2 linked regions of the Homo sapiens genome follow. The protein of the gene in region 1 interacts with the protein of each later gene in a pairwise test. Each region holds a gene or a part of one and is shown in the gene's direction. Other genes may lie near its edges.

The links. The genes of interacting proteins can lie anywhere in the genome.
Region 2: the proteins of SMPD1 (region 1) and ANXA4 interact in a two-hybrid assay, tested with the Homo sapiens proteins (one large-scale study listed by BioGRID and IntAct).

Annotation. Positions count from the first base shown.
Region 1 is NC_000011.10:6,389,073-6,393,273, forward strand, and holds the start of SMPD1 (sphingomyelin phosphodiesterase isoform 1 precursor), read left to right. Parts: upstream 1-1,401; 5' UTR 1,402-1,526; coding exon 1,527-1,844; intron 1,845-2,311; coding exon 2,312-3,084; coding exon of another isoform or gene 3,085-3,124; intron 3,125-4,143; coding exon 4,144-4,201. UniProt on the Homo sapiens protein: Converts sphingomyelin to ceramide. Exists as two enzymatic forms that arise from alternative trafficking of a single protein precursor, one that is targeted to the endolysosomal compartment, whereas the other is released extracellularly.
Region 2 is NC_000002.12:69,815,134-69,818,633, forward strand, and holds part of ANXA4 (annexin A4), read left to right. Parts: intron 1-967; coding exon 968-1,061; intron 1,062-3,465; coding exon 3,466-3,500. UniProt on the Homo sapiens protein: Calcium/phospholipid-binding protein which promotes membrane fusion and is involved in exocytosis.

The DNA of each region.
Region 1 (4,201 bases):
CTATCTGAGATGATGTCCCCAGAACTGGGGGGAAAAAACACTTGTAAAAAATTATCAAAGGAAAGAACTGACAGGACTTGATAGCTCTGAGGATTCCTCAGAAGCACTCGTCAAACAGCTTAGGGTTTAATTGCTATTCTGCCACTTAACTTCTTTGTGCCTCATCCTATCTGTAAAGGAGGGTAATAATAGTATTTGCAGGGACCAAGGGAAACTTTCCCTTCGCCCTCTGAAATTCTGCTGAAAAATCAACCCACAAAAAACAGATTAATTGAAGAAAAGGCATAGAAATTGTATTAATGTGTCCACGGGGAACCACAGAGTGACTACCCACTTCCCAGACGAGTTCAGAAGCTTAGGTGTCATTCAGGCAAAGGGGGTTGTGGGAGTGAGGGGAAGAGGAATTCTGCTGAGGGAGAAGGAATGGATCAGGGAACAGATTAACTAGCACATTATCATGTGAAGGGGTCTGTTCAGGTGTGATTATATTCTTGGTTTTGTAGGGAGGGGAAGAAAAAAACCGTTGTTCCTTTTGATGGGTCTGGACGCTAGGTAACGGCTTTGGGAGAGAGGGCGCGGGAGTAGGAAGGCCAGACACACCTTAAGGCTTAACTTAGTAAGTCAAACCACCATATTTTGGGTATGGATTTCTGAGCCCCAATATAATAGGTACTTCTTAGGGTTGTTGTGAGAATTGAAGATTATTAATTATAAAGTGCCTGGGTTGGTGCTTGGCACATCATAAACAACTCCATAAATGCTCGCTTTTACTGTCGTGGATACACGGAGGTGGGAGACCCAATTGGGTTCCCGCCCATGTTATTGGCCCCCACGGCTATATGGTCTTTACGGCTTCCTAGTCTCTTCACCATCTCTAAGGTTTGTTTCCTCATCTGAATCACAGGTGAGTGATTCTCAGGGTGACTCAAGAGGGCTGGTGCCAGTGGCAGAGCATGGGGAATCGAGGGAAGGCGCCTTCCTGTCAGAGGCAACACACCCAGTGGGAGGATCCTGCCCGCCCTGCTCTCTCCTACCTCCCCTTCCCGGGCTAAACGCTGGGGTCGGTCTGGCAGCTATTCCGGGAATCTGAGCGCGGATTCTGACAAAGGAGACGTCTTCCACCGACCACATCACATGGAGCTCCAAAGCACGAGCACGGCCTCCCGCGGCTGTGACCTCAAGGCGGAGCCCCTGGTGACCTCAGGGAGAGTCCCCACCCCCGCAGCCCGTGCGCCCGGGGCAGGGCGGGGGCAGGGAGAGGGGGCGGAATCGGGGCGGTCCCGGGAGCGCCCCGCCCCCTCCGCCTCCGCAGCGTTGACAGCCGCCCGCCACCGAGAGATCAGCTGTCAGAGATCAGAGGAAGAGGAAGGGGCGGAGCTGCTTTGCGGCCGGCCGCGGAGCAGTCAGCCGACTACAGAGAAGGGTAATCGGGTGTCCCCGGCGCCGCCCGGGGCCCTGAGGGCTGGCTAGGGTCCAGGCCGGGGGGGACGGGACAGACGAACCAGCCCCGTGTAGGAAGCGCGACAATGCCCCGCTACGGAGCGTCACTCCGCCAGAGCTGCCCCAGGTCCGGCCGGGAGCAGGGACAAGACGGGACCGCCGGAGCCCCCGGACTCCTTTGGATGGGCCTGGTGCTGGCGCTGGCGCTGGCGCTGGCGCTGGCGCTGGCTCTGTCTGACTCTCGGGTTCTCTGGGCTCCGGCAGAGGCTCACCCTCTTTCTCCCCAAGGCCATCCTGCCAGGTTACATCGCATAGTGCCCCGGCTCCGAGATGTCTTTGGGTGGGGGAACCTCACCTGCCCAATCTGCAAAGGTCTATTCACCGCCATCAACCTCGGGCTGAAGGTGAGCACTGAAGGGGCTGCAGTGGAGGAGGCCGAAAGGAGTGCTGGGGCTGGGGGCTGGGGCTGATGCTGGTGCGCTGGGCTCAGAATGCATCCCTGATGGAGAGGGTGGCATCTACAATCCATCACTGAGTTTGCTCCCCTTTGGGGACACCCATGGCTACATGCCACCATCACCCCATTGTGACCTTTGTGAAGTAAGAAAATAATGCAGACAGTGCCTGAGGAAGTCAGCTTGCCAAGCAAAGGCCTCATGCCACAGGCCGCTGAGCTAAAGAAGAAGCGATGGCCTGGTGCTGCCTGAGTTACAGGGCAATATCTGGAAGGCAAAGGTGTGCACTGAGCTTGGTGCACTGAGTCCTGCCCAGCCCCAGTTTGGAAATGGAGGCCCAAGGGGTGGTGGCCAGGGGTTGGCCTGGTTCCTCTGCTCTGCCTCTGATTTCTCACCATGCGCTCCTCCCACTGCAGAAGGAACCCAATGTGGCTCGCGTGGGCTCCGTGGCCATCAAGCTGTGCAATCTGCTGAAGATAGCACCACCTGCCGTGTGCCAATCCATTGTCCACCTCTTTGAGGATGACATGGTGGAGGTGTGGAGACGCTCAGTGCTGAGCCCATCTGAGGCCTGTGGCCTGCTCCTGGGCTCCACCTGTGGGCACTGGGACATTTTCTCATCTTGGAACATCTCTTTGCCTACTGTGCCGAAGCCGCCCCCCAAACCCCCTAGCCCCCCAGCCCCAGGTGCCCCTGTCAGCCGCATCCTCTTCCTCACTGACCTGCACTGGGATCATGACTACCTGGAGGGCACGGACCCTGACTGTGCAGACCCACTGTGCTGCCGCCGGGGTTCTGGCCTGCCGCCCGCATCCCGGCCAGGTGCCGGATACTGGGGCGAATACAGCAAGTGTGACCTGCCCCTGAGGACCCTGGAGAGCCTGTTGAGTGGGCTGGGCCCAGCCGGCCCTTTTGATATGGTGTACTGGACAGGAGACATCCCCGCACATGATGTCTGGCACCAGACTCGTCAGGACCAACTGCGGGCCCTGACCACCGTCACAGCACTTGTGAGGAAGTTCCTGGGGCCAGTGCCAGTGTACCCTGCTGTGGGTAACCATGAAAGCACACCTGTCAATAGCTTCCCTCCCCCCTTCATTGAGGGCAACCACTCCTCCCGCTGGCTCTATGAAGCGATGGCCAAGGCTTGGGAGCCCTGGCTGCCTGCCGAAGCCCTGCGCACCCTCAGGTACTTATCGTCCGTGGAAACCCAGGAAGGGAAAAGAAAGGTGAATGAAAGTGAAGGGAGAAGGGAACCTGGGGCATTGTCTCTGATTGCTCTAGCATGAGTCCTTAGTGCTCTTCATTTGGCTCCCCTAATCTGACTCCTCCTTCCCTTTCTACTGTTTTGCCGCACCAGGCTTTTTTTTTTTTTTTTTTTTTAGTTTAGTTTTTGTAGAGACAAGATCTTGCTATGTTGCCCAGGCTGGTCTCAAACACCTAACCTCAAGCAATCCTCCCGCCTCGGCCTCCCAAAATGCTGGGACCACAGGCATCAGCTACTGCTCCTGGCCCTCCCTTTTTTTTTTTTTTTTTTTTTTTTTTTTTGAGATGGAATCTTGCTCTGTTGCCCAGGCTGGAGTGCAGTGGCACCATCTCAGCTCACTACAGCCTCCACCTCCTGGGTTCAAGCAATTCTGCCTCAGCCTCCCAAGTACCTGGGACTACAGGTGCACGCCACCACACCCAGCTAATTTTTGTATTTTTAGTAGAGATGGGGTTTCACCATGTTGGCCAAGATGGTCTTGATCTCCTGACCTCATGATCTGCCCACCTCGGCCTCCCAAAGTGCTGGGATTACAGGCATGAACCACTGCACCCAGCTTTCCAGCCCTCCCTTTCTACTCTTATCTCCAGCCACCCTCCTTCAAAGGTCTGGCAGCATAACCTCTCTATGCCCCAGCTGTGTCTTTGCTCATGTTGGCCCTCTGGAAATGATTTCCCCCTTTTTTTTAAGTGCTCCAGTTTTTCCCACCTTATCCATCCCATGTCATCTTCCCTCTGTGTGGTCCTTGCTTCCCATTCTAGCTAACTCTTATCCCTCCCCCATACTCCTGGAGCCCTCTGCCCTCAGAGTCTTTTGTGTCACACAGACCCAATAATTAGAACTGTTTGGTCTCTGGCTAGACTGTGAGCTCCTTGCAGGTGGGGAAGATGTCATGTATGCTTTTACCCTCCACCCAAATGCCCAGCACAGGAGGACCAGGATTGGAACAAGTGTTGACCTCTCATGTTTACTTTGTTTCAGAATTGGGGGGTTCTATGCTCTTTCCCCATACCCCGGTCTCCGCCTCATCTCTCTCAAT
Region 2 (3,500 bases), on another chromosome or scaffold:
CCTCACAGAAACACCCAGAATAATGTTTGAGCAAAAATCTGGGTAACCCATGGCTCAGTCAAGTTGACATAAAATAAATTGTCACAAGCCTGTTGAGATTCAAGTTTCAGAAGTGCTGAATAAGATGAACTCTTTTGAATTAGGTGAATTAGATGAACGCTTTCAGCTTTAAATTTTTATGATTATGTGAATTGACTCTAAAGCAGTGAGGGAATCAGAGAAAGAAGTGAAAAAATGGGGGAGTATATGGAGGTAAGCCCAATGAGCCACAATATGTGTGAGTTAAGATCTTTTTGAGAAATGTAACAGGCAAGCTGCTTATTAAAAATGAACAGTAATTCTGATTGAGCAATAATGTAGTTAAATTGAGCAGAATGAGTTTCCTATATTCCTACCTGGTTGGAATGTAAGCAATTGGCAATGGGTCCCTGGTTCTACTGTGAGACCTGTAGCCTCAGGAAAATCACAGATCATTCTAGAGCAGGGCTATCCAATAGAACTCCCCGCAGTGATGAGAACATTCCACATCTGCACTGTCCTGTATGGGTGACTACCGGCTACCTGTAGCCGCTGGGTACTTGAAATGAGGCCAATGTGATTGAAGAGCTGAATTTTAAATTGTATTTAATTTCAATTAACATTTAAACAGCCACATGTGGTTAGTGGCAACTGTAGGGGACAGCCCAAATCTAGGGCATTTCTTTTAGCTCTTAAGATAGAACCATGTAGTCTCCAGCTAGGGAACTGCTAGTGTTTGCCCTGACTCCCAGGGGGGTATGACAGGGTCCCAACAGCCTTATGCCTGAGGAAGGATCCTGAGTCATTTCCACTCACCACTACCATTTCCAACCCCATCACCAACAAAATAAAACTAAGCCAGCTCAGCTCTTTGAGCTTCTGGAAATATTTGCCTGTGTCCTGGCACATCGTTTTTGGAATTTTAGACCTGTGCTTTGTTTGGCTTCAGGACCTGTATGAGGCTGGAGAGAAGAAATGGGGGACAGATGAGGTGAAATTTCTAACTGTTCTCTGTTCCCGGAACCGAAATCACCTGTTGCATGGTAAGGCACTTACTTCATTTCCCAAAGAAAAGGAGTGAAAGATAGCAAAAACTATATTGCCCATAAGTAGTTGATAACCTTCCTCCTTCAGTTGGTACAAAGAACTGATTGTACCCAAGTGTCTTAGATTCTCACCCTGGAAATGTATTAGTCCAATGATGTATATGAAAGCTAATTTCTGAAAGATTAATTATGAATAATTAGAAAAAGTGCATGTAGTCATAGAAGTTTGGCATTCTTGTTTCTAGGAAACTGACCTTCACAGTCAGTCCTTTTTCTAAAGTAGCCCCAGTATTTTCATTCTAATGTAGTTACATATGAAAGTAATCTGTAGTAGATCAGGTAGCAATAAAATAGCAATGTTGGTTGATATTTATTCCTGTGTAATATCCAAGCTGTAAAGCTAATACAAGTGATTTCTTTAGGGGTTATGTTGTATAAGATGAATAGTGGATAATTTCAAATTTGATATGTTTCTAATTTGTTTCTGATAAATATAAACTTTGTAATGTGATTTTAACTTATTTGGGGGAAAGATACTAGACAATTTTAGAATATTTGCTGTCAGGTTCATATTCTTTTAAACAAGCAAGTAAGGATATAATAAGATATTTCATCTTTTATACGAGTTCTTTAGATCTTTAAGTACATTATAATTTTATAAACCCACCCACCATACCCTTTTAATCACACACACTGATTTGCAAAGCTTGTGGGAAATTTGAGAATGAGTTTGCTAAATTGAAAACATAAAGCAATTGAGAAGTACAACACATTCTGAAGTTGTAATTATTTCAGGTTTTTCACAGTGACAAAAAAACAGGTGATTACTCCTGTTAATCAATATCCCGGGCTACCATCAGGTACACAAACTTCTGACTCAGCTTCTTTCTTCACTTCCTTCCCTTGCCTGGTTACAAATAACAGGAATCTCCCCCTGGTGGTGTTTTCCAAGAACTGCAGGTCCTCAGAAGCCGATTTAGTGCATAAATGCATTTGCAAGAATTTTCACTTCTGGGTACAAGTCAATAGTTAGGCAGTTATGAAATATCTGTTTGTAAGCCACTGGGAGAAAATATTTTAAGCACTGTTTGGACTAGGAAAACTTCATAATTGTCTTACCAACCAACAATAATGGTGAGATTTCATAATAACTACCGTTTTGTTAATAATGTTCTATTTTCTAGGTGCAGTGTTAAGCATTTTATAAGCATTGTTTCTTGCAACACTCAATGGAGCAGTAATTATTTTCCCCATTTTACAGTGGAGAAAACTGAGGCTTAGAAAATGTGTCAATTAAGTTCTTTGATTCCAAGCCACACACACTGACTTCAATTTAAGTAAGAAAAGATGAAATAATATAGAATGGCACAGGAGGGAAAATGGAAAATACTGGTAGCTCACAGATTTGAACAGACAGCTGAACACCTTCAGGAAGAACAGAAATCAAGGCAGTTCTGGGGGTCTCAGTAGAAGGGAATAATGGATTTTATTTCTAAAGCAGAGTTTCTGAAGTTCGTTTTCTATTAAAAATGCTAAATATTGACCCCCTACTTCAGACTGGCTGAATTAGAATCTCTGAGTGTGACACCCAGGAAGTTTAATAGGTTTCTCTGAGGGTAAAGATGATGCAGTGCTTTTGGCCATCCCCGTGAGCTGCTCAATTAAAAAGTTCCCAGGAGAGAGTCTAACGGGTCCTGACTGGGTCAACTGCTCACGTGTTTGACAGAGGTTGTGGTGTATGTTGTTGGGTATGGTGTCCCTTGATTGACAGCCCTGTTAAAATCACATTGATGGAAGTGAGGCAGCACCCCAAAGAAGGCGATGGTGAGAAGATAAAATAGATACCTGCTCTAAGAAGTTTCCAGAAGGAGACAGCAAGAGAGGGGAACATATTCACCACATTCAAAAATACTTGGCAAAAAACAACAACAAATGTAATTATGTTTAAGTATTTTAAAAGATGCAACCAGCTGTTATTAACTGTGACTCAGTTCTGAAGCAGTTGAATTGTTCTAGTTTTGATGAGCCAAAAGGGAGATGACAGGGAGGTGATTGCCAAGGACAAAAACACAAAAAGACACATTCTGCTTATTAAGGAAACAATGAGAAAGGAAAGCAAAGCTCCCCAGAGGCCATCTCCATTTTATGTGTGAGGGTCCCAGATAAGGGAAAGGACTTGACTGATGTCCTCCAAACATCACAGCATTTCTTCCTCCTTATCTGGGGCCCATTCCACTCTGCACATCCCTCCTGGCTGCTTGCCCACATTACTAATTAGTTTCCTCCTGAAATATGCCAAAGAATAAATAGTGTAGGCTAGTTAAAAATGCTCATTCTCTCCATAAATTTTAGTTTCCTCTGTTTTTTCTTCCCAATAATACTATTTTGTTATTGTCTGCAGTGTTTGATGAATACAAAAGGATATCACAGAAGGAT